2 separate regions of the Homo sapiens genome follow, and region 1 is linked to region 2. The links come from fine-mapping of genetic effects on gene expression. A gene starts in region 2. The other region holds a variant in brackets. All regions are shown on one strand. Distances are between the middles of the regions.

The links. PIP is the estimated chance that this variant, and not a neighbour inherited with it, causes the effect.
Region 1: its variant is fine-mapped to the expression of MR1 in monocytes (Kim-Hellmuth 2017, PIP 0.95).

The regions. Positions count from the first base shown.
Region 1 is chr1:181,054,417-181,057,330 of GRCh38, reverse strand. It overlaps MR1 (major histocompatibility complex, class I-related), which reads right to left. Exons shown (of 6, transcript NM_001385161.1): 6 at 1-2,106. The coding sequence ends at 2,066. Among named protein-coding and RNA genes, the nearest start is that of MR1, 22 kb to the right of the region's middle. The variant A/G (reference allele first, on the strand shown) is at 1,357.
Region 2 is chr1:181,032,285-181,035,198 of GRCh38, reverse strand. MR1 (major histocompatibility complex, class I-related) reads right to left here and starts at 1,216. Exons shown (of 6, transcript NM_001385161.1): 1 at 1,125-1,216. The coding sequence starts at 1,191. RefSeq lists enhancers at 1,307-1,416, 1,547-1,646, 1,847-2,036.

The DNA of each region.
Region 1 (2,914 bases), 22 kb before region 2:
CTTAAAAGTGGCACGGAAATTGCCCATGGCAACCCTAAAAACAAAATAAACACAACTGTGCTTCTATGCAACTCAACAGGCACCGGAAAAGAGAGATGTACAGTGGTAGCTTCATATATGGAATTACATGGGACAGTGGAGCAAGGAGGAAGCCTGGCAGGTGAGCTCTTAGAGGCCTGGCACACTGAGGGTATCTTTCTTTTTTTTTTTGGAGACAGAGTCTTGCTCCGTTGCCCAGGCTGGAGTGCAGTGGTGTGATCTCGGCTCACTGCCACCTCTGCCTTATAGATTCAAGTGATTCTCCTGCCTTAGCCTCCCAAGTAGCTGGGACTATAGGCACATGCCACCATGCCCAGCTAATTATTTGTATTTTAGTAGAGACAGGGTTTCACCGTGTTGCCCAGGCTGGTCTTGAACTCCTGAGCTCAGGGAATCCGCCTGCCTCAGCCTCCCAAAGTGCTAGGATTACAGGCGTGAGCCACTGTGCCCGGGCTGAAGGTACCTTTATCTGAGGCTGTAATGATTAAAGCCAAAGGTCAAATGTCACAGTCAAGGTCAAGGGAGAGCAGAGGTCAAACCTGAGGTGCAGGACAAAAGCCACTTGTCAAAGTTCAGGTCACTGAAGTAAGCATTAGGGCTCAGGTGCAGAGTCAAACGGGGTCAGAGAAGTAGGACCGAGGAATGTGTGACTGGCAGCCCCAGGGCAAGTAGCTCCACATGGCAGGGCAGTAGGTGAGGCCTCAGGGGTTGGGGATAGTAAGGAACATTAAGGGGATGTTCATTCTCACCATGGGCTTTTATTGATTCCCAGTGCATATGTATGAAGACAACCTATGTAGGAAGGCAAGTCATGCCCAGCTACCATGAGCCAGCACAGGAAAGGCAGAAATGAGAATTGAGCCCTCTCCTGACACCAAATATACTGTTATTATTATTATTATTATTATTATTATTATTATTATTATTTTGAGATAGAGTCTCACTCTGTCGCCAGGCTGGAGTGCAGTGGCGTGATCTCGGCTCACTGCAATCTCTGCCTCCCGGGTTCAAGCAATTCCCCTGTCTCAGCCTCCCAAGTAGCTGGGACTACAGGCACGCAACACCATGCCCAGCTAATTTTTTGTATTTTAGTAGAGACAGGGTTTCACCATATTGGCCAGGATGGTCTTAATCTCCTGACCTCGTGATCCGCCCGCCTTGGCTGCTCAAAGTGATGGGATTACAGGCGTGAGCCACTGCACCTGGCCATACTGTTATTTTTACATTAAAATAGTGCAGCTGGGTCCAGGTCTCTGTAGTTCCACTGGAGGTGATGATATGTCTGATAATTATTTCTCTTAATTTCCCACAAAAGAC[A/G]AAAAGGGTGAGACTACCTCCATAGATCCAACCGGGCAGATTACCAAGATTCCAAGCTCCCAGGCAGGGTTGCTGTGAACAGCAGGGGACTTTGGCTTTCTCTCAGGCCAGAAAATGTATAAAAATAATCAGTCCATTCCCAGGCCATTGTAGAAACCTGCCGGCTACTCTCATGGAGTGATCCAATCCTACCTGTAGGGTCACAGTCATGGTGCCCATGATATTCAAAGCGCTTGTACAATAAATGTTCCCATGAAAGATGAATGAGAAAGGCCATTTTATGAAGTACTGAGGTTCCCTTCACATGGTGTTCAAGTGGAGGCTGGAGGCTCAAGTCCAAGGCATTGCAGAAGACAGTTCCTGCTCTGGTTGAAAAGATTCCTTCCTGCTCTGAGAATCTCCAACTAGTTGCAAATCATCATTGACAAATAGAATGTAGGGAAGCGTTGTGTCATGAGACAAGCTGTATTTAAAGTCAACTCTGATAAAACAGTCCATCAAAAGAGACTGAAAGCTGACAGTCTTTTTGGAGCCAAAGAACAAAGAACATTTTGTGGCTCCTCTGTTGCTGCCATAAATGCTCAATCCCATTACTCTCATGTATGTTGTGGGTGTCGTCAGGACCTTCAAGCACTAGGCTTGACTCTATGGGGGACAGAGGATAACATGGCTCCTAGAGGAAGGAGAACTGGAAAAGAGGGATCTGCAATCATCGATCTGGTGTTGGAAGGTAGATGGCTCCATTTTGCTCTGAAAGGAAAGGGGTTTTTAGTCAGATTACAAGAATGTTTCCTCACAGCTCAAAAATAAAGTATGCAGTGTTCAGCAAAATCTGAGAAACAGGCATCGACAGTTTTAGCTTGCTTTGTCAAGATTCTCTTAGTACTTGACAAACTTTAGCTCAAATTTGTAAACTCTATAAGATAAAAAGCAGGAACTCACAGTCTGTATAATTATTGAGAGAGGGATGTCATTGTAAAAAAATTTTTTGTTTGTTTCACTATCATTTATTGGATTAGGATTAGTGCTGTACTTTATCTATAAAGAAAACATTAACAACCCATTAACTCTCTGAGCTGATTTTCTTTTCTTTTCTTTTCTTTTTTCTTTTTTGAGACAGAGTCTCGCTCTTGCTGCCCAGGCTGGAGTGCAATGGAGCGATCTTTGCTCACGGCAACCTCCGCCTCCCAGGTTCAAGCGATTCTCCTGTCTCAGCCTCCTGAGTAGCTGAGATTACAGGCATGTGCCACCACGCCCAGCTAATTTTTTTTTTTTTAATATTTTCAGTAGAGGCAGGGTTTCACCATGTTGGCCAGGCTGATCTCGAACTCCTGACCTCAAGTGATCCGCCTGCCTCGGCCTCTCAAAGTGCTGGGATTACAAGTTGTAAGCCACCACGCCCGGCCTCTGAGCTGATTTTCTAGTAAAAGGGTTGGTTTTACTTTGATCTAACAACATGCTTTTGTACAGTTATCACCTGAATTGGAGTTGAGGTCTATGTCTATGAAGGAAAACCAAACTTCTGGTCCACTTTGGGTTCAAAGCATGGTCTCATCGG
Region 2 (2,914 bases):
ACAGCTAATTTTTTGTATTTTTAGTAGAGATGGGTGTGCCGAGCTAATTTTTTGTATTTTTAGTGAGATGGGGTTTCACTATGATGGCCAAGCTGGTTTCAAACTCCTGACCTCAAGCGATCCGTCTGCCTCGGCCTCTCAACGTGCTAGGATTACAGGTGTGAGCCACCACTCCCAGCCATATGATTTAAAATTTTTTTATTTGTATAAATTTATGATGTACACATGCAATTTTGTTATAGCATAGATTGTGTAGTGGTCAAGTTGGGGCTTTAAGGTATCCATCACCCAAGTAACACACATTGTACCCATTAAGTAATTTCTAATCATCCACCCCCCTCGCCCTTCCAAATCTCCATGGTCAGTCATTCCACTCTCTATGTGCATGGGTGATTTGAAAGAACTCCTTCCTCTCATGTTCATCAGTCACACCTATGGTGGTGGCCAAGTCTAAGTTCTGGACACTGCCCACCAGTACCAGTCCTCAGCCCAGGGAGCAAGTGATTAGGGCAGAGAAGCCTGGTGGTTCTAGCCCATGGGCCCTTTCCCCTATTTGAGGCAACAGAAGGCATTTGCTTCCCCAGTGACTTGAGCTCCCCGAATAATGAAAAACTCTCCCTTCTACTTGATTAATACTTCTCACAGTCAGTAAACAAACCCAGAGCCATGGTTTTATCTTTCTTGGATCTTTTATTACAGGTAGGGCTTGTGTTGAGGAAAAACATAAATAAACCTGAACAATGGATCTACTCCACTGTTAATGCCCCTGAAACTCTGACTACATCCTCATGAGACTCTGGAAGTTAGAAAAGAGGAGAAACAAAAGTAAAAGAAAAAATATGAGCAGAAAAGAAAGGAGGCCATGCTCAGAGGGAAAGTGAGGAAGTTCCAGAGTCTTTCTAGAACGGCTCCCCCTCCCTCAGAAGGTGGTGACATCAAAATCCTACAAATATGAACTGGGAAACTGTTCAGGCAATCCATTGCTCCTGGAGTCTGAGTGTAATACATACACGTTTCTGCCCCTGGCTTCTATATTTTTCACCACAAGTTTTAGGAAGAAAAGCTGTGCCTTCTAGGCTGCCTCGACTTTGGAGTTAGGAGAGAAGAGGACGTGGGATACTCACGGGAATCGCTGTGCTTCACCATTAACACAATGATGAGAGGTAACAGGAACGCCATCAGTTCCCCCATAGTCCTTCTCTTTCCGGGTTCTTTTAACCAAAAACTGACAGGTCCCTTCTGAGAACCTCTTGGTGACACACAAGGCCTTCTCCCAATAAGAACAGGGGAAGATATGCAGTGTCATCAGTTGCTAGGTTAAAAAAAAAAGATAAAATGAAAGCATGAACACCTTCTTCGGTAACTTTTAAGTCTTTGCTGGTTTCAGACACTGCTTGCTCCTTTTGGTGTATCTATCTTCACCCTATTCCCAATTTTTAAATATTTATGGAGCATAGTCATGTTCAAAGCACAGAGAAACAAAGATTAATCATATCTGGTCAATCAGGGAGCTCAAGCTGCTGCCTCTGCTTCCCTGGAGCTTAGAATTTTGCTTAAGGGTCAGTAAGAAAGAGTCACAGTTCCCACGGCTTGGAACTCCCTGCTCTGGCTCCCTATGATGCTGAAGTCTCTGTCTGAGATAGCAGGTGTCACTTAGATTGTCCCGTAATCTTCAACTTAGGTCTGTCCTCCCTGCTACTCTAGCACCCAGCACAATAAGCTCAAAACACTTACTGAATAAAAGAAGGCAAGAGAAAGGCCTACAGAAGATTCTGAGGGGCAGCCACTCAGCTTGCTCAATCAGCAATCCCCAAGATCAAGCTGTGGCTACACTGTCATAAGGAGCACATGACAAGCTGGAAAACAGCAGCTTAAGCTTGTCCAGGGAGCTAGGGAACAGGCCCAGACAGGAAAGAGGAAGTAGACATGAAGGGGAGAGGTGAATGGAGGCATGGCCATGAGGCAGGCAGGCTTGAGCTGGGTTCAGGGACCTGGGTTTGCCTCCCCACTATTTGACCATGGGCAGAATCCCAAATTGCACCAAGGCCTGATTTCTTCAACTTTAAAAGCAAATCCTGTCATATATTTCACAGAGTTGTTGAAGGATCAGAAGTTCTGTTTATGATGCATTTAGTAGGTAGTAGAACCTTATGTACCGGTTGTATGGTAGGTTGAGAATTGTCGCCCCAAAGATGTCCACAACCTAATTGCCAGAACCTGTGGATATATTACCTTAAATGGCAAAAACAAAATAAAACAAAACAAAACCCTTGGCAGATATGATTAAATTAAGGATCTTGAGACAGAGAGCTATCCTGGATTATCTGGTGGACCCAGTGTAATCAGAGGGGCCTTATTAGAGGGAGGCAAAAGGGTCAGAGTCAAGGAGATGTGACAATGGAAGCAAAGGTCAGAGTGATGATGCCATTGCTGAAAGAAGGACATGAGCCAAGGAACGCAGATGGCCTCTAGAACTAGAAAAGAGAAGGAACAGATTCTCCTTAGAGCCTCCAGAAGGAACACAACACTTTGATTTCAGCTGATAGGACACATTTTTGGACTTCTGTCCTCCAGAACTTTGAAAGAATAAATTTGCATTGTTCGAGGCCACTAAGTTGGTGGTAATTTGTTATAGCAGCAACAGGAAACTAATAGGTCTACCTTTACCCAGAATAAAATAAGAAGCCAAATAATGAAATTAACATTTGGCAATCTCTCAGCGGCCCCTGGCACCTTCTCTTCTCAGATCTTTGTATTTCTCTCTTCCTTTCCTTTCTGTTTCTTTACATTGTTTTTCCTTTTGTTACTCATTTAACAAATACAGTCACCTGGATTTCTCTTTTGGAAAACTCCCCCAATATTCCCAAATGTCTCTCAGCACTGGAATTCCATGGCCATGTATTTTTTCCTTTGA